Regions from separate parts of the Homo sapiens genome. Here all the other regions are linked to region 3. Evidence: fine-mapped expression QTL. A gene starts in region 3. Each other region holds a variant in brackets. All regions are shown on one strand. Distances are from middle to middle.

Evidence for each region. PIP is the estimated chance that this variant, and not a neighbour inherited with it, causes the effect.
Region 1: its variant is fine-mapped to the expression of IGF1R in whole blood (TOPMed, PIP above 0.99).
Region 2: its variant is fine-mapped to the expression of IGF1R in monocytes (TOPMed, PIP 0.94).

What each region holds. Positions count from the first base shown.
Region 1 is chr15:98,954,159-98,962,340 of GRCh38, forward strand. IGF1R (insulin like growth factor 1 receptor) reads left to right here. Exons shown (of 21, transcript NM_000875.5): 21 at 2,903-8,182. The coding sequence ends at 3,284. Among named protein-coding and RNA genes, the nearest start is that of PGPEP1L, 50 kb to the right of the region's middle. The variant CCT/C (reference allele first, on the strand shown) is at 3,700.
Region 2 is chr15:98,541,433-98,549,614 of GRCh38, forward strand. No RefSeq gene overlaps it. Among named protein-coding and RNA genes, the nearest start is that of IGF1R, 100 kb to the right of the region's middle. The variant G/A (reference allele first, on the strand shown) is at 3,988.
Region 3 is chr15:98,643,868-98,652,012 of GRCh38, forward strand. IGF1R (insulin like growth factor 1 receptor) reads left to right here and starts at 4,672. Exons shown (of 21, transcript NM_000875.5): 1 at 4,672-5,808. The coding sequence starts at 5,715. It overlaps IRAIN (IGF1R antisense imprinted non-protein coding RNA), which reads right to left and starts at 6,920. Exons shown (of 1, transcript NR_126453.2): 1 at 1,996-6,920. RefSeq lists an enhancer at 2,774-3,395 and silencers at 3,407-3,456, 3,467-3,936, 3,997-4,056, 4,427-4,696.

The sequences.
Region 1 (8,182 bases), 310 kb after region 3:
GACATCAGGGCCAAGAGTGAAGTGAGAATACGGAGGCACCTCTGTGTGCTCACCCTGCTGACCGTCACCCAGCCTCCGGGGGGGGTCACAGCTGGCCCCCAGGAAGCTGCTTCCCAGCAGGGCAGGAATTCCATTTGAGTCTTGTCCCTGTTCCAGGAGAAGGGCTGGGTATGTGTCCCCCAAAGGGGAGAGCATTCGAGAAGGATGGCGCCAGCCTCCCCAGAACTGACCTGTGGTTAAAAAAAAAAAAAAAATTGTGCTTTTTAAAAGATGAGTTTTATCAGCTCACACATCCTTCTAGAGTCTAATGGAGATTTTTTGTGTGTGTGGAAATAGTAAACAAGGTCTTGAATCCCACAGAGCAAAAAAGACTTCCTTTCATGGGCAGCACTGGAAGGGTTGTTACTCTGGAATGGTTTAAAAGAGGCGTCACATGGCTTGTTTGTGCTGATGTCACTGCCTCGCTGCTCTCCTGTGGCACCTCCTCGGTCCCTGGCCACAGGGCACAGAGCCAAGCACATCTCATGCTCTTGGCCCAGTTACGCTTCTGCCCAGGGGTAAGTCAGCTGGAGAGGAATTCACAGCCCAGGCATTTCATGTCGTTATGGCCTATTTTAATTTTTTTAACCCCAATCATTTTTCTTAGGAAGTGATGGGGAGTTTGGAAAGGCAGGCTTATTTGTCATCAAGCTGCCAGCTTTTATCAATGCAAACCACATCCCTGTGACATCTGTGACTGTTCCTTGGACAGTTAGGTGAGGGAGGGTCTCCTGGTGGCCCCAGGGTTACTCTTATTTAGGTTGAGAAAAATTCCTTTTTCCAGGATCGTTGGTGATCAAAGTGTAGTCATTCTGTTGCGCAGAGAACTCCATCCCAGCTCCACCCTCATGAATTTTGTAATCTTGGACAAATTATTTAGTATCTTAGTGCTTCTGTTCCCTCATCTGTAACATGGGGGTATATTATAGTCAGTAGCACCTGCTTCACAAACTCGTGAGGACTTCAGCAGTTCACACACATAACTGCCTCGCTGCCTGGCACCTAGCGTGCACATGGCATTCTACCGTGGGGTAGACTTTTAAAATTCTGGCTACAGAGATACTTTTCCATAAAAGTGGCCACATGGAACTCTCCAAATCTAAGAAGCATACTGTGGGGGCCTTCATATTTTGTCTAATTCTTTTCTCCCCAGAACAGGAACCTGCACCCTTCCTTCTTTTAAAGGGCGACGTGGTAAATAAACATTTTTAGACTTGCAGGCCACAGTCTCTGTCCTAATGTCCTCAGCTGGTAGTTGTAGCTGGAAAGCAGCTGCAGCCCACATGGAAATGAGGGAGCGTGGCCCCATGCCAGTGCAGCTGATGTAGAGGCGGGCAGCCCCGGGTTAGGCCCTGTGGAGACGCAGGCCCCCGGGCTCTAGAACGCTGAATTCTAGTGAATTCTGGATGGCTCTCCCTCACACCCAGGCCCACCCTCCCTCAAGGTTGCACCTTCTCCACCTGAAGGAAGCTGCCAGGTGGCCATAGGAGCCCTTCTCTTGGCAGGCCAGCTTCCAGGCCCAGTGGCTTCTCTTACATCAGGGGCCTCCCCTTGGAATGTTCCCTGAAGGCCAGACACGGGCAGGTAGTCTGTGGTCAAGCAGCCACCCTGACAGGAGGCTAGATGCCACTGGGTGTGCTTTGAGTTTCCTAGATGTGGAGAGTTCTGTGTGGCCACTTTTATGGAAAAGCATCTCTTTAGCCAGAATTTTAAAATAAAGAGGATAACTTCCTGGTGAGAACAGACGTGGAAAGGAAGGCACTTTGGTTTCACGCTCATGTAAGAGAGGGCTGTTGGCGGTCACTCCTCAGAACTATGGCCAGCCCTGGATGGTAGCCAGCTGCTTTTTGCCCCAAAAGTCTGTTTAGCTGGGTCTCTGCATTCTGGAAGCTTGTCAAAGCCCGGGCCTTTCCTGGGTCAGGGCAGCCGGCTTTCCTTGTCCACGTGTGGCCGGCTGTTTTCTTGGGGAGCCCCGGCCACAGCCGGCAGGACTCCCTTTGCTCCATGTGACTCTGAGGGCCTCACAGGTATTTGCAGCCCAGGTGCTGTCGGAGCCCAGCCGATGCGACCGACACACAGCACAAGCGTCATCCTGTTCTGCCTGTCCCTTGCGTGTGGAGGGGACTCGTGCCCAGGGCTCTCCTTGCTGGCTTGTTGGAATCTGGCTTCAGGTCTACACGGGGCCTCTCGTTTGGTCCAGAACAGCCTGGCTCATCGGCTGGGGCTTGCTTGTGCAGGGCTGGAGCGAGCACGTGCTAGATGGAGACAGCAGACTCGGAGTGTGCATTTCTTCGTGTTGCAAGCCTGGCCTCACAGTGCCTTCTTCCTTTGGTTGTCTGCCAGGGGTAGCCCTGCACCAGGAGGAAGCTTAGAAATAGCACAGGTGGGAACCGGAGAGAGAGCACTGTTGGGGAAGCTGCGGTCACTCATCAGCCTTCCTGGTGAGAAACCAGGGGTTTCCTGCTAATTCTGGAAAGGATGTTTCAGCAGTGCCTGCATGAGACGCCTCAGATAGAAAACTGGTTATTTTTGTTTCTTAGCACTGCCACCATAGATAACAGCTGTCACGATGGACAGTGTGGACCTGGATTAGTCCTTCTTGGGAAAGGAGAGTTTGGGTTTTGTACCGTGGTGGTTCTGGGTTCTGGGGGAAGAGAATGGAACCGTACGAGGTAAAACAGGAGACTCTGAAGGCCACTTGGCCATCCAGGCAGAAAGCCAGGGATGGAGAGGGGCAGCAGGGCTGTGTTCAGTGCTCCCGCCGTACGCTTGTATGCGGGAAACCACTGCAGGCGGCCCATGAAGCCTCCTGGCCATGTGCGCCCTCCCGGTTTGGACCCCCTCCCGTGTGTCTTGGCTGCAGGTTTGAACTGATGCGCATGTGCTGGCAGTATAACCCCAAGATGAGGCCTTCCTTCCTGGAGATCATCAGCAGCATCAAAGAGGAGATGGAGCCTGGCTTCCGGGAGGTCTCCTTCTACTACAGCGAGGAGAACAAGCTGCCCGAGCCGGAGGAGCTGGACCTGGAGCCAGAGAACATGGAGAGCGTCCCCCTGGACCCCTCGGCCTCCTCGTCCTCCCTGCCACTGCCCGACAGACACTCAGGACACAAGGCCGAGAACGGCCCCGGCCCTGGGGTGCTGGTCCTCCGCGCCAGCTTCGACGAGAGACAGCCTTACGCCCACATGAACGGGGGCCGCAAGAACGAGCGGGCCTTGCCGCTGCCCCAGTCTTCGACCTGCTGATCCTTGGATCCTGAATCTGTGCAAACAGTAACGTGTGCGCACGCGCAGCGGGGTGGGGGGGGAGAGAGAGTTTTAACAATCCATTCACAAGCCTCCTGTACCTCAGTGGATCTTCAGAACTGCCCTTGCTGCCCGCGGGAGACAGCTTCTCTGCAGTAAAACACATTTGGGATGTTCCTTTTTTCAATATGCAAGCAGCTTTTTATTCCCTGCCCAAACCCTTAACTGACATGGGCCTTTAAGAACCTTAATGACAACACTTAATAGCAACAGAGCACTTGAGAACCAGTCTCCTCACTCTGTCCCTGTCCTTCCCTGTTCTCCCTTTCTCTCTCCTCTCTGCTTCATAACGGAAAAATAATTGCCACAAGTCCAGCTGGGAAGCCCTTTTTATCAGTTTGAGGAAGTGGCTGTC[CCT/C]GTGGCCCCATCCAACCACTGTACACACCCGCCTGACACCGTGGGTCATTACAAAAAAACACGTGGAGATGGAAATTTTTACCTTTATCTTTCACCTTTCTAGGGACATGAAATTTACAAAGGGCCATCGTTCATCCAAGGCTGTTACCATTTTAACGCTGCCTAATTTTGCCAAAATCCTGAACTTTCTCCCTCATCGGCCCGGCGCTGATTCCTCGTGTCCGGAGGCATGGGTGAGCATGGCAGCTGGTTGCTCCATTTGAGAGACACGCTGGCGACACACTCCGTCCATCCGACTGCCCCTGCTGTGCTGCTCAAGGCCACAGGCACACAGGTCTCATTGCTTCTGACTAGATTATTATTTGGGGGAACTGGACACAATAGGTCTTTCTCTCAGTGAAGGTGGGGAGAAGCTGAACCGGCTTCCCTGCCCTGCCTCCCCAGCCCCCTGCCCAACCCCCAAGAATCTGGTGGCCATGGGCCCCGAAGCAGCCTGGCGGACAGGCTTGGAGTCAAGGGGCCCCATGCCTGCTTCTCTCCCAGCCCCAGCTCCCCCGCCCGCCCCCAAGGACACAGATGGGAAGGGGTTTCCAGGGACTCAGCCCCACTGTTGATGCAGGTTTGCAAGGAAAGAAATTCAAACACCACAACAGCAGTAAGAAGAAAAGCAGTCAATGGATTCAAGCATTCTAAGCTTTGTTGACATTTTCTCTGTTCCTAGGACTTCTTCATGGGTCTTACAGTTCTATGTTAGACCATGAAACATTTGCATACACATCGTCTTTAATGTCACTTTTATAACTTTTTTACGGTTCAGATATTCATCTATACGTCTGTACAGAAAAAAAAAAGCTGCTATTTTTTTTGTTCTTGATCTTTGTGGATTTAATCTATGAAAACCTTCAGGTCCACCCTCTCCCCTTTCTGCTCACTCCAAGAAACTTCTTATGCTTTGTACTAGAGTGCGTGACTTTCTTCCTCTTTTCCCGGTAATGGATACTTCTATCACATAATTTGCCATGAACTGTTGGATGCCTTTTTATAAATACATCCCCCATCCCTGCTCCCACCTGCCCCTTTAGTTGTTTTCTAACCCGTAGGCTCTCTGGGCACGAGGCAGAAAGCAGGCCGGGCACCCATCCTGAGAGGGCCGCGCTCCTCTCCCCAGCCTGCCCTCACAGCATTGGAGCCTGTTACAGTGCAAGACATGATACAAACTCAGGTCAGAAAAACAAAGGTTAAATATTTCACACGTCTTTGTTCAGTGTTTCCACTCACCGTGGTTGAGAAGCCTCACCCTCTCTTTCCCTTGCCTTTGCTTAGGTTGTGACACACATATATATATATTTTTTTAATTCTTGGGTACAACAGCAGTGTTAACCGCAGACACTAGGCATTTGGATTACTATTTTTCTTAATGGCTATTTAATCCTTCCATCCCACGAAAAACAGCTGCTGAGTCCAAGGGAGCAGCAGAGCGTGGTCCGGCAGGGCCTGTTGTGGCCCTCGCCACCCCCCTCACCGGACCGACTGACCTGTCTTTGGAACCAGAACATCCCAAGGGAACTCCTTCGCACTGGCGTTGAGTGGGACCCCGGGATCCAGGCTGGCCCAGGGCGGCACCCTCAGGGCTGTGCCCGCTGGAGTGCTAGGTGGAGGCAGCACAGACGCCACGGTGGCCCAAGAGCCCCTTTGCTTCTTGCTGGGGGACCAGGGCTGTGGTGCTGGCCCACTTTCCCTCGGCCAGGAATCCAGGTCCTTGGGGCCCAGGGGTCTTGTCTTGTTTCATTTTTAGCACTTCTCACCAGAGAGATGACAGCACAAGAGTTGCTTCTGGGATAGAAATGTTTAGGAGTAAGAACAAAGCTGGGATACGGTGATTGCTAGTTGTGACTGAAGATTCAACACAGAAAAGAAAGTTTATACGGCTTTTTTGCTGGTCAGCAGTTTGTCCCACTGCTTTCTCTAGTCTCTATCCCATAGCGTGTTCCCTTTAAAAAAAAAAAAAAGGTATTATATGTAGGAGTTTTCTTTTAATTTATTTTGTGATAAATTACCAGTTTCAATCACTGTAGAAAAGCCCCATTATGAATTTAAATTTCAAGGAAAGGGTGTGTGTGTGTGTATGTGTGGGGTGTGTGTGTGTGAGAGTGATGGGACAGTTCTTGATTTTTTGGGTTTTTTTTCCCCCAAACATTTATCTACCTCACTCTTATTTTTTATATGTGTATATAGACAAAAGAATACATCTCACCTTTCTCAGCACCTGACAATAGGCCGTTGATACTGGTAACCTCATCCACGCCACAGGCGCCACACCCAGGTGATGCAGGGGGAAGCCAGGCTGTATTCCGGGGTCAAAGCAACACTAACTCACCTCTCTGCTCATTTCAGACAGCTTGCCTTTTTCTGAGATGTCCTGTTTTGTGTTGCTTTTTTTGTTTTGTTTTCTATCTTGGTTTCCACCAAGGTGTTAGATTTCTCCTCCTCCTAGCCAGGTGGCCCTGTGAGGCCAACGAGGGCACCAGAGCACACCTGGGGGAGCCACCAGGCTGTCCCTGGCTGGTTGTCTTTGGAACAAACTGCTTCTGTGCAGATGGAATGACCAACACATTTCGTCCTTAAGAGAGCAGTGGTTCCTCAGGTTCTGAGGAGAGGAAGGTGTCCAGGCAGCACCATCTCTGTGCGAATCCCCAGGGTAAAGGCGTGGGGCATTGGGTTTGCTCCCCTTGCTGCTGCTCCATCCCTGCAGGAGGCTCGCGCTGAGGCAGGACCGTGCGGCCATGGCTGCTGCATTCATTGAGCACAAAGGTGCAGCTGCAGCAGCAGCTGGAGAGCAAGAGTCACCCAGCCTGTGCGCCAGAATGCAGAGGCTCCTGACCTCACAGCCAGTCCCTGATAGAACACACGCAGGAGCAGAGTCCCCTCCCCCTCCAGGCTGCCCTCTCAACTTCTCCCTCACCTCCTTCCCTAGGGGTAGACAGAGATGTACCAAACCTTCCGGCTGGAAAGCCCAGTGGCCGGCGCCGAGGCTCGTGGCGTCACGCCCCCCCCGCCAGGGCTGTACCTCCGTCTCCCTGGTCCTGCTGCTCACAGGACAGACGGCTCGCTCCCCTCTTCCAGCAGCTGCTCTTACAGGCACTGATGATTTCGCTGGGAAGTGTGGCGGGCAGCTTTGCCTAAGCGTGGATGGCTCCTCGGCAATTCCAGCCTAAGTGAAGGCGCTCAGGAGCCTCCTGCTGGAACGCGACCCATCTCTCCCAGGACCCCGGGGATCTTAAGGTCATTGAGAAATACTGTTGGATCAGGGTTTTGTTCTTCCACACTGTAGGTGACCCCTTGGAATAACGGCCTCTCCTCTCGTGCACATACCTACCGGTTTCCACAACTGGATTTCTACAGATCATTCAGCTGGTTATAAGGGTTTTGTTTAAACTGTCCGAGTTACTGATGTCATTTTGTTTTTGTTTTATGTAGGTAGCTTTTAAGTAGAAAACACTAACAGTGTAGTGCCCATCATAGCAAATGCTTCAGAAACACCTCAATAAAAGAGAAAACTTGGCTTGTGTGATGGTGCAGTCACTTTACTGGACCAACCCACCCACCTTGACTATACCAAGGCATCATCTATCCACAGTTCTAGCCTAACTTCATGCTGATTTCTCTGCCTCTTGATTTTTCTCTGTGTGTTCCAAATAATCTTAAGCTGAGTTGTGGCATTTTCCATGCAACCTCCTTCTGCCAGCAGCTCACACTGCTTGAAGTCATATGAACCACTGAGGCACATCATGGAATTGATGTGAGCATTAAGACGTTCTCCCACACAGCCCTTCCCTGAGGCAGCAGGAGCTGGTGTGTACTGGAGACACTGTTGAACTTGATCAAGACCCAGACCACCCCAGGTCTCCTTCGTGGGATGTCATGACGTTTGACATACCTTTGGAACGAGCCTCCTCCTTGGAAGATGGAAGACCGTGTTCGTGGCCGACCTGGCCTCTCCTGGCCTGTTTCTTAAGATGCGGAGTCACATTTCAATGGTACGAAAAGTGGCTTCGTAAAATAGAAGAGCAGTCACTGTGGAACTACCAAATGGCGAGATGCTCGGTGCACATTGGGGTGCTTTGGGATAAAAGATTTATGAGCCAACTATTCTCTGGCACCAGATTCTAGGCCAGTTTGTTCCACTGAAGCTTTTCCCACAGCAGTCCACCTCTGCAGGCTGGCAGCCGAATGGCTTGCCAGTGGCTCTGTGGCAAGATCACACTGAGATCGATGGGTGAGAAGGCTAGGATGCTTGTCTAGTGTTCTTAGCTGTCACGTTGGCTCCTTCCAGGGTGGCCAGACGGTGTTGGCCACTCCCTTCTAAAACACAGGCGCCCTCCTGGTGACAGTGACCCGCCGTGGTATGCCTTGGCCCATTCCAGCAGTCCCAGTTATGCATTTCAAGTTTGGGGTTTGTTCTTTTCGTTAATGTTCCTCTG
Region 2 (8,182 bases), 100 kb before region 3:
AGTAGGAAGAAATTCAAATGAGAAAGAACTTGCTCTGAATGTCTGCTCCATCCTCCAGATCTTTAATCTGAGTTCCATCCCTCATTCTGTCAAAACTCCACAAGGAGTTCCAAGTTTGGGGTTGGTGATTCCTGAGAAAATCGGTTACAGCTGATTTGCAGGTTTAGCATGGCTATTTGTGCAGTCTAAACGTCCAAGCCAGATTTCTACAAGACAGTAAGATTACACCACAACGGCGGGAGCACACGTATATGTCTCTCCTATTTCTGATGTTATGTTGTAAATATTTAAAATAAAGCAATCCAGCCGGGCGCGGTGTCTCATGCCTGTAATCCCAGCCCTTTGGGAGGCCGAGACGAGTGGATCACTTGAGGGCAGGAATTCGAGACCAGCCTGGCCAACATGATGAAATCCCGTCTCTATTAAAAATACAAAAATTCGTCAGGCGTGGTGGAGTGCACCCTGTAGTCCCAGCTACTCAGGAGGCTTGCTTGAGAATTGCTGGAGCCCGGGAAGTGGAGGTTGCAGTGAGCAGAGATCGCGCCACTGCACTCCAGCCTAGGCAACAGAGAGAGATTCCGTCTCAAAAAAAACAAAAATAAAAATAAATAAATAAATATCTAAAAATAAAAATAAAATAAAGCAATCCTTATGATGTTTTAAAAGACTATGAAAGGTGTATTTACAGGGTAGTTCCTGCCGTGTTTTCTGAGCCGGTATCGCAGGGAAGGCTCTGCGTCAGACCTCAGGGCCCCCTTGCTACTAGGAGAACCAGCAAAGTCCCCGTGGGCTGGGTCTTCCCCGGCATGCTCAAGCCACTCACCTTCATATTCTGTGCCCTGGCCACGCAGGTCTGTTGATTTCTTGCCTTCACCTCTGCTCTGCTAGATACTGTTCACGCTGTTGTCTCCCTTCCCTCACTACCTGACAAGTTGACTTCTGTCCACACCTCAGGTCCCAGCTGAAGAGCCTCTCTTCACACAAAGCACACCTGTGGTTGCCAGGGCCTGGGGTGGGGGTCCTGGAAAATGACTGCTCAGCGGGACAGAATTTCTTTCTGGGTTGATAAAAATGTTCTGAAATTAGATAGTACTGATGGTTATAAAACTCTGTGAACTGCAAAACTTTAAGAGGTGAATTTTATAGTATGTAAATAATACTAAATCATTCTTTAAAAATCCCTTCTTAACCGGATGCAATGGCTCACACCTGTGGTCTTAGCTACTTAGGAGGCCGTGGTCGGAGGATTGCTTGAGGCCAGGAGTTCAAGATCAGCCTGGGCAACATAGTAAGATCTCCCATCTCTACCAAAAAAAAAAACCATTAAATTAAATTAGCTGGGCATTAGTGGCATGCACCTATAGTCCCAGCTACTCAGGAGGCTGAAGTGGGAGGATCACCTGAGCCCAGGAGTTTGAGGCTGCAGAGAGCTATGATTGCACCACTGCACTCCAGCCTAGGTGACAGAGCCCTGTTTAAAAAAAAAAAAAAAAAAAATCCCTTCTTCAAGGAAGTCCTCCTAGGTGCACCTGGACCCTCTACCTCAGAGGACCCTGTGACATCCATTACAGCAGATACCACAATTATAGAGAGTAATGGTGTTACTGGTTACTAAATGCAGTAGGATACTGAGAGCATGGTAGGAGGGGTACACTGGCAATAATTTAAAAACAAGAATAAAACAAACCAAAAATTGATCTTCTCTTTACCATGCCATGCCCTGGCAGTTCTAAATAACATCAGTGATAAAAGTCACCTCCCCTCCTCAAATATTCTTTGGTTTAAGTTCTAAACAATTGCAGGGACTACTGTTGAGTTTGAGTGATATGCATGTAAGCTTCAAATTAACACATTCTAATTACTTATCCTTTAATAAGCATTATCATTCTACATGTAACTTAATTCAGAAAATTCCTAATTACAGCCAGTCCTCCACAGATGAACCCAAGCAATAGGGTTTGTTTGTTTGTTTTTGAGATGTTTGTTACTATAACAATGTGGAGTGGCTCAGCTAGCATTTCCCGCCCTGTGATACTATTTATGCCTGCTGCCTTTAAAGTGTAGAATCAAAGTAAACACTGATAGCACACTGATAATGGAGAAAGAAAACAGAATTTGATGTAGCTCAATTCTCTCACTCTATGTAACTGTGTGAGTTTTGATTTGTGTTTTAAAATTTGAAACAGTGAAACAGTGAGAAGTACAAGGTGTAATATTTTTGTTTGATGAATGCAAATTTTAGTCCATGCATAAAATATTTGACTAAATTTGACACTTAAGTTTATTCTTTTCTTCTAATTGTTGTTGGTTTTAAACTAAAGGACAAGGCCGGGCACAGTGGCTCACTCCTGTAATCCCAGCACTTTGGGAGGCCAAGGCAGGCGGATCATGAGGTCAGGAGATTGCGACCACCCTGGCTAACACAGTGAAACCCCATCTCTATTAAGAAATACAAAAAATTAGCCGGATGTGGTGGTGGGCGCCTGTAATCCCAGCTACTCAGGAGGCTGAGGCAGTAGAATGGTGTGAACCTGGGAGGCAAAGCTTGCAGTGAGCAGAGATAGTGCCACTGCACTCCAGCCTGGGCAACAGAGCGAGACTCTGTCTCAAAACAAAACAAAACAAAACAAAACAAAACTAAAGGACAAATTTTAAAAAATTGTTACATTAGTAATTGACTAAACTCTACCTTTTACACAATTTGGTTTTATTAAAATTCACTTACTAGTTACTGAACACTTACATAAAATAATATTACATGAGACTGTAACCAAAATATCAACGTTTAATCTTTAGTAAATATAAAACTGATTGAATAGCTGGATTGAGTTTTTTCCCTTTTTTTGCATGATAACTTATTTTTATTCATTTTATTGACAAGATTATGTAAAGATTCAATATAAGGAAATTTCCAGTGTTTGCATTTATTTTCTATTTTTGTTATTAATTTTGTTATGATTATTGCTAAAAAATAATTTAAGCATATAGAGATTATTTTCTAACACTCCCTTTATTAAACTGTAATATTCATGAAGAATATATTAATGAGCTACAAACATGCTTTACATTTCTAAATATTCTTAATGTATATCAAATACATAATAAGTACGTATATTTTGAAGAATATTCATATTCATTTAAAATATCTAAAAACTGGTTTAATGCAAGGCTTTGGTAAATTGCTAAGTTTGGTGAATTGTTTGGTGATTTAGCCATTCAGTGATTTGTTTTTTGCCCCGTGAGACAGATAGTTTTATCATTACTTCCAAGGGAAAACTGAGGTATAAGGTATGTAAACTATTTGTCCATGGTCAGAAAACCAGTAAGAAGAGCTATGATCTCAATCAAGATCTTCTGATTCTAGCCATTATACTATATTGCTTCCTCACATACCTCCCATTAAAACTAAAGTTGACCATGAAATACCATCCAGCTATAACTTCACCAGAAATGCTGCCTCGGTGAGAATGAATAGCCACATGGGACTACAGACCCCCGTCTACACACCTATGAGTCCAGCTCCCACTTCAGCCTAGTCATCAAGAATTAGAGATCACACGGAGGCAACCCATCAAATGCCCATCAAGTGTCCAAAGTGGTTCACTGGGTCCATGTTCTGAGCCAGGTTTTTGATCATGTTAGGTTCATTCCTGCCTCAGGGCCTTTGCACACACAGTTTTTGTTGTTGTTGTTGTTGTTTTGGTTGTTTTTGTTTTTGAGATGGAATCTTGCTCTGTCACCCAGGCTGGAGTGCAGTGGCATGATCTCGGCTCACTGCAACCTCTGCCTCCTGGGTTCAAGTGATTCTCCTGCCTCAGCCTCCTGAGTAGCTGGGACTACAGGAACACGCCACCATGCCTGGCTAATTTTTGTATTTTTAGTAGAGACAGGGTTTCACCTTATTGGCCAGGCTGGTCTGAAACTCCTGACCTTGTGATCTGCCCACCTGGGCGTCCCAAAGTGCTGGGATTATAGGTGTGAACCACC[G/A]CACCCGGCCTGTTTTGTTGTTTTGTTTGGGCCTGGCTTTCCCCTCTGGCTTTTGAAATAACTCTTCCTCATGTTACCTCCTCAGAGAGGCTTTCCTTGACTACAATATCTAAAGTTACTCCTCCCAACCACTAACCATTGTCCTAGTGCTTTGTATTATTTCTATGCACCATTCATCCATCTATATTTCTTTCTTTCTCTTTTCTTCTATGTTATCAGCGACTTGTATAGAATAGATTCCTAATAAGTATTTATTAAGTTATTGAAAGAATGAGGCCAGGCACAGTGGTTCATGCCTGTAATCCCAGCAATTTGGGAGGCTGAGGCAGGCAGATCTCTTGATGCCAGGAGTTGGGATATCAGCCTGGGCAACGTGGCGAAACCCTGTCTCTACCAAAAAATACACAAATTAGCTGGGTGTGATGGTGTACGCCTGTAGTCCAGCTACTAGGGAGGCTGAGGTGGGAGAATCACTTGACCTCAGGAGGCGGAGGTTGCAGTGAGCTACAGTGGTGCCACTGTACTCCAGCCTGGATGACAGAGAGAGACCCTGTCTAAAAAAAAAAGGAAGAAAAGCATGAAGAGATTAATCACAGTGCTAAGGACTCCTCTGAGGTCACATCCAGGCTCAGTGGGGCAGAGCACTGAGAAATGAGCCTGTGCTGTCATACGTAGGATGTGGGGAGGCCTGGCTCACCAGCACCTGAGAACCCTGACTTCCATATTATCCATAACGGGGGTACAGGCTAGGGCTTTCCCCCATCAGCACCCAGCAACACACTACCATCTATCCATTCACAGGTGGGAGTCTCCAGGAGGGGAAGCAGGTAAGGCACAGGCAGGGCCCTGCGCAGGTGGAGACTGGTTTTGTGTCTGGGGTTTGTTCCTTCTGGTGGGTTCCTGGTCTCGCTGCCTTCAAGAATGGAACCGCAGACCTTCACAGTGAGTGTCACAGCCCTTACAGATGGCACAGACCCAAACAGTGAGCAGCCGCAAGACTTAATGTGAAGAGCAAAAGAACAGATATCCCACAACATGCAACGGGACCCAAGCAGGTTGCCTCTGCTGGCTGGGGGGTAGCCAGCTTTTATTCCCTTATCTGTCCCCGCCCATGTCCTGCTGATTGGTCCATTTTACAGAGTGCTGATTGGTCCATTTTACAAACCTCTAGCTACAGAGCGCCTATTGGTGCATTTTTACAGAGCACTGATCGGTGCATTTTACAAACCTCTAGCTAGCTACAGAGCGCCCATTGGTGCGTTTTACAATCCTCTTGTAAGATATAAAAGTTCTCCAAGTTGCCACCCGACCCAGAAGTCCGGCTGGCTTCACCTCTCAGTTTCGTGTTCTACTCCAATACCATCTGTACACCTTCATGCGGGGATTAGGGATTTGACAGGTGAATAGGTTACTCAATAGCGTTCAGAGTTCATAAACCAAGACTCTACCTGCTTCCCACAGCCTGCGTTCATGGGAAAGAGGCAAGAAAATAAAACCAGCCTCAGCTATATCGAATCCTTTCCTTCCCCTCCCAAGTCATTAACAAAGACTGACACTGTAGTATTTATCAAAAAATCTTGTTCCCTAAGTGGTGATACAGAATAATTATCTCAGCATGCAATCAGCTCAGCGATCTTCTTCAAAGCAATTTGTGGCAAGGATATGCAGTTTTTAAATAGATTAAATTTTCAAGAGCTTGCCTCTGAAACCTGGTCAGAATGTATTTACAACTCACCTGGTGAGATGATGCGTATCTTAAGCTGGAATTCTCTTTCGTTAGGTCTTGCTTAATTGAATCAAGCAAAGTCATTTTGGGATCGTCCCAAAAGAAACCCTTTTATCTCAAGGCAAATGTGTTTTAACAAGGCCCTAAGGTGAATAAAAGCTAGGTTTCCACTCACCGGAGCTCTCTGCTCCTCCTTTCAAAAGCCTACCACTCTACTTCATTTGTTTTTCTTTTAAGTGAGGAAATTGCTTATGGAGTTAACTGTTGCCAGTGAAAGCAACAAGTTGCCTCTCCCCTCCTCTACTCTTAAGAAACACCTTGTTTCCCTCCCTCTCTTCCTTCCTTCTTTTAAAATAAATAAGTTATGCATAGCTGGAGCGTGCATGCAATGCTCAGGCGTGGTCCTGGTATAGCCAATAGCGTCATATTCAGCCCTGTTTAATTCCCACTGTCTTGGGTCTAGAATTTAGGCTTTTGAGAAATCTTTATTGAATTAATGAAAACTCAAAGACCACGATTCTGCATTCCCCCAAATCCTGAAGTGCAGTAGGAGCCCATGCAGGGCTTGGGACGGGCTTTTTGCCTCAGCAGCCAGGACAGCCTCTGCATCCGTGACCACCTCCCCGCCCCCCTCGCATTCCCCCCCATCCCCTGGTGATATCCTTCTAGCGCAGGCTCGTGCTCTGGAGGCGGGGTGGGGCCGGGATTCTGCAGCTGTAACCAACTCCCCCGCTGGGGGCATGGGGCTGGTCCCTGGGGCGCACAGAGAAGTTGTGACAGATAATTGACGTGATCGGGAGGGGCGTCCAGGCAGACCTCATGTGACTTCTAAAACCAACCCACAAATCTGAAGCGTGGCTTGCGTGGTCAGCCGCCTGCCTGGCACCCGGTGAACAGTTTCTCCCGGACTCTCTGCATCTAGCCCCAAAGAATCTAAGATTCTTTGTCTAGAAAAGTGCCCTGGTCTTCCCTGGCACCCTTCGCGGTGGGTTTCCTTGACTCCGCATAAACTCCCGTTCCAGCCCAAATCAGAGGCGGTCGCAGCAGCCGTTCCTCGTCTCCATCAGCATCCGCGTTGCCATTTCCCCGTCCTGAGCTGTTGCTCATATCAAATGTCACTCGGGGATGACTAAGAGCCGATGTTGATGAGGAGCCTTCAGCGTTACGGTAAAGGAGCTCGTGCAAACTTAGACCCCAGTCATCTGACGGTCACGTGGGCGGGCGTCGCGGCCCAGGCCCCCGCCTCCTCCGTCCTCCGCGATTCGGACATGACACGGTCCTCCGCGAAGGGCAGGCGTTACATAAACCCGGCGAGCTCACACCGTGCGGCGGGGAGCAGCGCGAACGCTCGACCCGGACACCTCCCTTCCAGGTCCCGTTCCGTAGGCGGGGCCGCTCCCGAGGCACAAGGAGGCCTGCGCGGCGCCCGAGGTGTCCGGATCCCAAAACAGGACCCCAGGAGTTTCTCACACTCAGGACTGGCCCCTAGTTGTCAATCCAGAAAAGGCATCCTCCGTCCTAGATCCAGCCTGTATTTCACGGAAAGCGTTTCCTCCCCCATCCCCAAAGCCGGCAGGGGTGGGGCGGAGAGGGGAGGCCCGGGGAGACTGACTCTATTATATAAACTTGTAATTGGCTCCGGTTCCTGCGGCTCGGGCGGCACTGCAGGACGTTTCCAACCAGATGGGTTGTGAGGCCCCGCGGCTTCCTCCTCTTCTTCCCTCCCCCTCCGCGCCCGTCCCCTGGCCAGCCAAGCCCCACCCTTCTGCCTTCCCAAGGCTACCAGAATTTCCCTGTCTTTCCAGTCCTCCCCTGCACAGGAGATGGCACCCAGAAAAGAAATGCATGATGATTTGAAAATGGTATTCCATTGTTAAACGAATGTATTCCCAGTCTGCTAGTCCTGGCTCCAGCTGACTCTTAGAATCAATCACCTCAGTAACTCAAATGTTCCAAGCTGGGAATCAGTCATCTCAGACCGGCATTCTCAAATGAGCTGGGCGTAGGGGGGTTGTCAAAACTCAGAGCGCTGAGCCCGACGCCCAGAATTATGTTCGATCGCTCTAGATTGGGCCCCAGAAATGTGTATTTCTTTCTTTCTTTTTAGAGGCAGGGTCTCCTTCTGTCGCCCAGGCTGGAGTCCAGTGGTGGAGTCATGGCTCACTGCAGCCTCCACCTCCTGGGCTCAAGCCATCCTCCTGCCTCGGCCTCCCTCATTATAGACATGAGCCACCACACCCAGCGAGGAAGGTGCATTTCTACAAGTTATCAAGTGATGCTGATGCTGTGGAATAGTATACACAGGAGCAGGGTGGTGGTTTATATAATTCTCCTTCCATTAAAAAGGTTTGCAAAACAAATTAATAGTGTGAACAGAATGTCAGGAAGACCAGCCTCCTCTCAGGGATTCTCTGGCAGTTTAGAAGTGAGAGGTGACAGCGTGCTGGCAGCCCTCACAGCCCTTGCTCG
Region 3 (8,145 bases):
AATGCTCTCTGAAACCTCCACGTTGCTTTTAAAGCATCATGGAGAAATGTAGCATTTATGCCTTGGGAGCCAGCTATCTATGCAGAGCTAAAATAGAAAATCTTCTCAAGTTGAGTATAAACAGATCCTCAACAAGACTGAGACTCTTGTTGCTTGTGGCTGTGTGGGGATAGGAATCAGCTACAGCATCACTTGTATTTTTCCTGCCCTTGGGGTGCTCTGTGGAGACCATGTGATGCCTTCCACAGCTAATGCCCCTAAGGAAAGACCTTAGGCAGATACACACTGAAAGTATACACATCTGTAGACAGCTGTGGGCAAGGATGTTGGAGTTTAGCATCTCTACTAACTCACCTAATAGTAAAAACGGGAAGCATTGTGCTAACATTTTTTTTAGAACAGCTGCAACTATCTAAATTATAATACAATCTTAACAATTTAACATTCAGATACAATTATGCAGAATGAAGTGCACCCATCTTAAGTGTACAGTCTGATGTGTTTCTGCTAAATGCATATACTAGCATAGCCAACACCCCATCAAGATATAGAGCATTGCCATCACCCAAGAAAGTTCTTTATGCCTCTCCCTAGTCATTTGAAACTTTCCCTCTCTACCCACCCAGGGCAGCCATGATTCTGATTTCTAGCTCTAGATCAATCTTGCCTGTTTTTGAGCTTTACATAAATGAGCTAATACAGTATGTACTCTTTTGGCTTATACATTATGCTTTGGAGACTCATTTATGTTTTTGCATGGATTAGTAGTCCATTCCTTTTTACTGCTAAGCAGTATTGCATTGAATGGATATATCATGATTTGTTTATCCATTCTCCTTTTGATTTACATTTGGGTTGTTTTAGTTTTTGCTATTATGAACAAAGCACCTATTGACATTCCCATAGAAGTATTTTTGTGGAATTTTCATTTCTTTTGGGTAAATAACTAGGGCTAGACTTGCTGGATCGTAAGTTAGTTGTATGTTTTACCTTATAAGAAACTGTCAAACAGTTGACATAATGCACTCTTAATGAAGCTTATTACCTGTGAAGTGAGGTCTTTTAAATTTTTTGTCTTTTGATTTTTGTCTTAAATTGCATCGATATTAGATGTGTGGACATTCTTCTGAAATATCTTAAGGATCAGACCTTGATTAACTGTGTTATTTTAGTAGATCTTTAATGCTTCTGAGTTATTTATACGGACAGCTCGAAATCTGAACGACTCCCATTGGAAAACCAGAATGATCTCTTTCATGGATCTCTCCCATATTTTTATTTATCTTCTTTAATGTTTTATACATACAAAAATATGTAGAACATGTGTTAGTTATTAAGCATACTTATAAAATGGAAATTTGTAAATCCGTCACTCAATCCAAGAGTGAACTCATTTCCAAATTACAATGGAAACCCATGTGCCTATGGGCTTCTCATCCTCTCCAAAGGAATTCACATCCTTCATTAATTCTTTTGCTAAAACAAAAGCAAAACAAAGGAAAAATATTATTTTATTATTTAAAGCAAAAAAAATTTTCTGTAACTTTTAAAGTTTTCCTTGCTTTTTAAGAGCTTTATCAAAATGGTGTTACGCTGTGTGCGTTTTTGATATTTGTATATTTTTACTCAGTGTGTTTCAAAGATCTGCCCATGTTGTGTGGGGCTGTAGTTTATTCACTTTTGCTGCTAACATTCCTTTCTGCGAATACATCACAATATACTGTATTACTTGATACTTGTCAATTGTTGTGCTGTTTCTCACGTTTGCACTTGATGTATATGATATACATTACATTTTTTGGGGAGTCTGGTACATTTAGCAGAATAATTTGAGATGAAACTGTTATCAAGTAAACGGCGTTTTTAAAAAATGAAAACAAGCAATCAGTTTCTGCTCCAAAAGAGGGAGAACCTATAAGATACCTGAGTAAAATGGTATAAAATAAAAAGTTTGGTGCATTGTCAATGTGGGTATAAAGCAAAGACTCCAATTAATTTTTGTCTACATGATTTTATTTCAAGGTTGAAAAAATAAGTTTGACTTGTGTATGTAAAATATAATCATTGAAGAAATACAAATCACCTCCTTTGTCCATGTGGTCAAGTTAGAGCGTAAAGACAACCTAAATTTTTGTTCCTTTTTTTTCCCTAAATATTAAGCTATATAATGATACATCTCCCACTTCACTGTTTAAAATAACTTAATACGATTGATTTCCTACTACTTCAGGAAAACACAAACATTTAAAAAATTCACAAATAAAAATCATTTTAGTAAAAAAAAAACACACAAAAACAAATCCTACAACCCCTACAACAACCTATATACATTTAAAAATTCTATAGACCTCTTTATGTTCTTGGGGACAAATAAACAGGCATATTTATTACTAATACTAAAAATACATTGGGTAGTATTTGAAGATTTTATATTAGCACTAGCCTTTTAAAAATCAGCTCTAAATTTTTGTCTTACAAGTATGTATTAAAAATTCTGAAATCAAGTATAATGAAATTATATATCAATATTCCTTTGCATTTAACTCCAGAGTGGATCTGCAGGAATCAAGACCAACCTCATGCAGAGAACTTAAGAAATATTTAAAAATTAGTAGACTGGACTTTAATTCTTCATGTGTAGTGCCTAATTTTTAAATAATACATTTTAAGATTCTAATAAATTTATTTCACTGTTAAATCTAGGAACATCCAAAACTGAAACTCTTTATTTAAAAATCAAGCTGAATTTCAGTTAAACAAAACCATCCCATCATATGAATAACTTTCTTAGGTAAAACAAGGTTTATTTTCTTTCTATACAACTGACTCTGAATTGAGCTAGAAATTTCCAAGGAGGAAAATGATCTAGGAAACAACTTTAGAAAAAAAGGGCTAAGTTTCCGTTATGATAGCTTTTGACTTGTTTTCAGCTCTTAAAAAATTATTTACGAACGATGGATACACGTTCTAATGCAGAAGTATTTTAGAATTAGAGAGTAAAAGAAACCTACTACCTTCCTTTACATCAGGTCCCTTCTACCATCCTACCCGATTGTTTGAGACAACCACTTCTTATCTCGACAATTCACAACTCTTTTATTAGCTATCTTAAAAAAATTTATTACTGGCATCAATTAGCCTGAGTCATGAAACCGGACCACATTAAGGGCGACACATGGTCCAATCACTGTTTGTAAAAGTCCACGTATTTCAAACTCCTCTCTCCTGCCACTGCTGGGCTGTTTCCCTCTTTGAGGACCTGGTCTCCGCAGCATTTATTCATTAGATGGCAGTCCTAGGGGAGTCTCGCTTTGGGGAAACCTCTCCTCCTGCACATTCAAGAAAACAACCGCGGAGACTTAGGGTCGGTACTGGTTTCCAGTCACTTACGTAGCAAACGAAGCAAGAGGAACGTGCCTGGGAGGACCCGAGACAGGTGCGGGTGGGTTTCCGCAGTAGCCGCTGATCCCGAGTGCATGCGGCGTGTTCCCGGGTCGGGACCGCGGCCAAGGGAGGCTTCCCGGCCCCAGCCTCCACCCCCTCCTCGGCGCCCCGGGACCCGGACACGCCCCCCGAGCTTCGGAGACCCGCAGCGTGCACGCGCCCCGGCCGCTCCCCGCAGCCGCCCACGTGGTGGAGCCCTGAGCTGCGCGAGGCCGCGGAGAGCGCTCAGGGCGGGCGGCTGGTCCGGGAGGCCACGCCAGCGCGACCCAGCCGAGTCGGCCCCCAGCCCGGGCCCCCACATTTCCTCCCCCGGAGGGAGGGAGGCGACTCTCCGCGGGCTGCCCTCCCCAGCGCCCGCCGCGCCCTCTGGCGGCCGCCGCGGGGACGCGCCCGGGGCACGCGGCGCTGCCTGTCTGGGCCCCCCTTCCGGGGCGCGGGGCCCGCGAGGGGCGGCGGGGTCCTCTCTCCTCGAGCCACTCTGGGCCGAGCCACACGGGCCGCGCCCTTCCCCCTCCGCTCCCCCTGAGCCCCCAAACTCCGGGCTCCACGGTCGCAACGCCGCGGGCACCCCAGCCTGGCGTGAAAGTGCCCGGCGTAGTAGCCTGGGGGGGGGGTCCCCTTTCTCCCAGGTGCGCCCCTTCCGCCACGTTCGGGCTTTCCAGTACGCAGCGAAAAAAATGCCGCATGCACGCATTTATTTATTTTGCAACAGCTGCAAGAAACAATGAAGCTTTTCAAGAACCGGGGAAACGCGCTTTCCAGCCGCGCTGTTGTTGTTTTCAATGAACCTCTCCCAGCCCCGCACTCCCCGCCCACCCCTCCCCTCTCCTGCCCACCCCTCCCCTGCCTAGCCTTTCCCTGGCTACCCACCCCTGCCCCGCCGAGACCGGACCGGCGGCGGGGGCATTGTTTTTGGAGTCGGGCGGGAGGGGAGGGCGCGTGCGGGGTGGCCGGCGCAGTGCGGTGGGGGCGGGAGCGGGTGGGCACGCGCGCGTGTCTCTGTGTGCGCGCGGGAGGCGGTGGGGCGGGAGATGGGGGCGGCGCCTCGCAGTCTCGCGCCCCACGCCCGGGCTCCGCTCCGCACGTCTTGGGGAACCGGGCTCCGGTTTTTTGCGCGCGCCGGCCTGGGCCGGGCCCTCGGCGCGCCGCTGCTGCGGCGGTGGCCGCTCGAGTGTGCGAGCGGGCGCGTGTGCGCGGGCCAGGGCGCGCGCGCGCGCGCGAGCCCCCAGTGTGTGGCAGCGGCGGCGGCGGCGCGGCGAGGCTGGGGCTCTTGTTTACCAGCATTAACTCCGCTGAGCGGAAAAAAAAAGGGAAAAAACCCGAGGAGGAGCGAGCGCACCAGGCGAACTCGAGAGAGGCGGGAGAGCGAGAGGGACGCCGCCAGCGAGCCTGCCCACGGCCGGCGCTCGCAGACCCTCGGCCCCGCTCCCCGGATCCCCCCGCGCCCTCCACGCCCCTCCCGCGCGGGGGCAGCTCCACGGCGCGCCTCGCCTCGGCTGTGACCTTCAGCGAGCCGGAGCCCCCGCGCAGAGCAGGCGGCGGCGGGCGGGGGCCGGGCGGGGGCCGGCGCGGGGCGGGCGGCGGCGCAGAGCCGGGCGGCGCGGCGGGAGTGCTGAGCGCGGCGCGGCCGGCCCGCCGCTTTGTGTGTGTCCTGGATTTGGGAAGGAGCTCGCCGCGGCGGCGGCGGCGCTGAGGGAGGAGGCGGCGGCGAGCGGAGCCAGGAGGAGGAGGAGGAGGGGGAGCCGCTCATTCATTTTGACTCCGCGTTTCTGCCCCTCGCCGGCCTCGCCTGTGACCCGGACTTCGGGGCGATCTTGCGAACTGCGTCGCGCCCTCCCGCGGCGGAAGCTCGGGCGTCCGGCCGCCTCCCGCGCGGCCAGGGCCGGGCTTGTTTTTCCTCGCCTAGGCAGATTTGGGCTTTGCCCCCTTTCTTTGCAGTTTTCCCCCCTTCCTGCCTCTCCGGGTTTGAAAATGGAGGCCGACGACGCCGACAGCCCGCCCCGGCGCGCCTCGGGTTCCCGACTCCGCCGAGCCCTGGGCCGCTGCTGCCGGCGCTGAGGGGCCGCCCCGCGCCGCCCGCCCCGTCCGCGCACCCGGAGGGCCCCGGCGGCGCCGCCTTCGGAGTATTGTTTCCTTCGCCCTTGTTTTTGGAGGGGGAGCGAAGACTGAGTTTGAGACTTGTTTCCTTTCATTTCCTTTTTTTCTTTTCTTTTCTTTTTTTTTTTTTTTTTTTTTTTTGAGAAAGGGGAATTTCATCCCAAATAAAAGGAATGAAGTCTGGCTCCGGAGGAGGGTCCCCGACCTCGCTGTGGGGGCTCCTGTTTCTCTCCGCCGCGCTCTCGCTCTGGCCGACGAGTGGAGAAAGTGAGTATGTGCCCGCCGCCCGCGGCCACTGCGGGAACTTTTCCTCCGAGGGGCTGCGCCCTGTTTGCGAAACCCGAGTTGCCACCGTCGCAGCTGTCGGGCCCCCGGGCTCGGGAGCGGCGGGGTGGGGCGCAGGGCGGCTCTGCCGGGAGGGAGGCTGCAGCGGACCCGGGACCCGGGCTCGTTCGTCTGGAGCCCCGCGGGCCCTGGCTCCGCGCATCCCCGCGCGGGAAGGGCTTTTCTCTTTCTCCGTCCTGACAGCCCAGCCGTGTTTCCCGGCTAGGCGCGAGGACTCGGTAGGGAAGTTGGTGCCGGGGCGGGCTCCGCGGTTCCCGGGCCCCGCGACCCGCACCTCGCCCCTTCCATGCGCAAGAGCCTCTCCGCACACAGCGCTGATCCCCTGCGGCGCGCAGGCAGCAGCGACAGCACCCTGGGCCGCACCGCGTCTCCGCTGCTGGGGCTGACCGGGCAGTGGGGAGCGGGCAGCCGCCCGGCCCGCGGGGTGCGAGTTGCCCTCGAGGGGGGAGGTGCCCTGCGGAGAGGCCCCGAAGCCCCAGGACACGTCTCCAAGCGCCCGTCGCTGCCTCCCGTCGCCCAACGTGCTTTTGCCCCTCGGGCTCCTCGGGTTCCTGGCCTTGCCCGTCACTTTGGCCCGCTCCTCGTTGGGTTACCTGCCCCCGGCGTCCCGGGGCTGGGCGGTGGGGTGAGGGGAAGCGCTCTCTGGGCAGCCCCCCGGGAAGTGCGAGGCCGGGAGTCTTCCTCAGCTTGTCTCTTCCGGGGAGCGCCACTGGGTCCCCAGTTCAGAGGGCTCTGGGATGGTCTCCCAGTTTCTCCCGGGCCGGGGGATGGAGGGGTACTAGGGCCGCATCCGAGTGTGCGTTGGTGGGTGTGTGGTCGGAGCCGACGTGCATTCCGACACACGTGCTCGCAGCGCGGGGTGTAGTCGCCGCCTCACGGGGACACCTAGACGCCCGTCCCTGGCGAGAGGTGTCGTACGCTGTGGTTTCAGCGCCAGGGTCTGCGGCGGCGCGGGGAGGGTGTTGTGTTTTGCGAGCGCGGAGCCCTGGCCTTGGTTTTGTTGTGGTCGGCGTCGTGTCGCCCTCTCTTCTGCCGCCCCGCACTTCCTTTGTACGTAGTTAATAAGCAGTGTCGCTCCACATTCGCTGTCTTTTGCAATCTGATAGCTTTTGTTTTGGTGGTGTCGGGTGGGGGTTAGTAGGGAAGCGCGGGGATGCGGGGAGCGAGAACTCCCCCCGGTGTCTACGGCCGGAGGAGGTGGGGGTTTTATTCTTCTGAAAAAGTTGAAAGTGTGGCTTACTGGTACATTCAAGATGGTAGGGTAATTTGAACACGATTAAAAGTTTAAATGTCGCAGAACTGGGACTGGGAACGGTGAGGGCGTGTTGGTGAGTAATGGTTGCCGAGGGTATGCAGGTGGTGCCGATTAACTTTGAAAAAATCACGACTGAGCCTTCACGAGTGAGGCGGGGAAGGAGGAGGCAGCGGAGGTTGTATGGCCCCATCACCGGGGCAATTCAGAAAGGCTGTTTCTATAAACAAATCCTTAAACGTCTGGTAAGAAATGAGTCCGCGACGGAACGAGAGCAGATCGTGGTTCGCGTGTTTACTGCCGAGTGGGACGCGGACTGGGGCCGGACCTTCCACAGATCTGGGCTCTCCTGCTCTTTGTTTTCTAAACTTTCAGCGGACTCGATTGGGCGAAAGCCTTCCGGCTCCCTTTACTAAGTCGTTTAGGTGGTGGCTGGGGGGACAAAGGAGGGTTTTTATCTTTAAAAGATAAGTACGGTTTAGAAGACACGGGAGAAATAATCCATTTTGTTATGTTATGCAGTTGAACTGTATAGCTTCTCTAGTTTTGTGTTTTTAATGTTCTGAAATTCAAAACAGCAGGGATGGCCTTCGCCGACGCAGGAGTCGGGCATTTTAAAATAGGCTGTTTTTCTTTTGGAGCGTTCTTCTTGAAGGATATTCTTTGTGCAAGACGGCGATTTTTGAGAACACAGGCAGGAGGGAGGGGGTGTTTTAATGTATGTTTTTACTCCATGATACCAAAGCTTCCCCCCAGGATCCCTTTACAGTGGTTAGTTCCTGGAAACCTGATGGGTGGTCAGAAGGCACCCCAAATCTCGATTATGGTTTGCTGAAGTCTTGACTGACTCAGTACCTGCCCCTCCCTCCATCTCTGAAATGTGGAGAATTAAAAGCTATGCCTGTGAACGGGCGTTCAGTTTTTAGCCGGGAAGGTGCTAGACCACTTAACTCTGATAGAAATAAGCTGCTGAGCCCTATCAGGGAGGGCGTTCTTTCAGCTGTTGT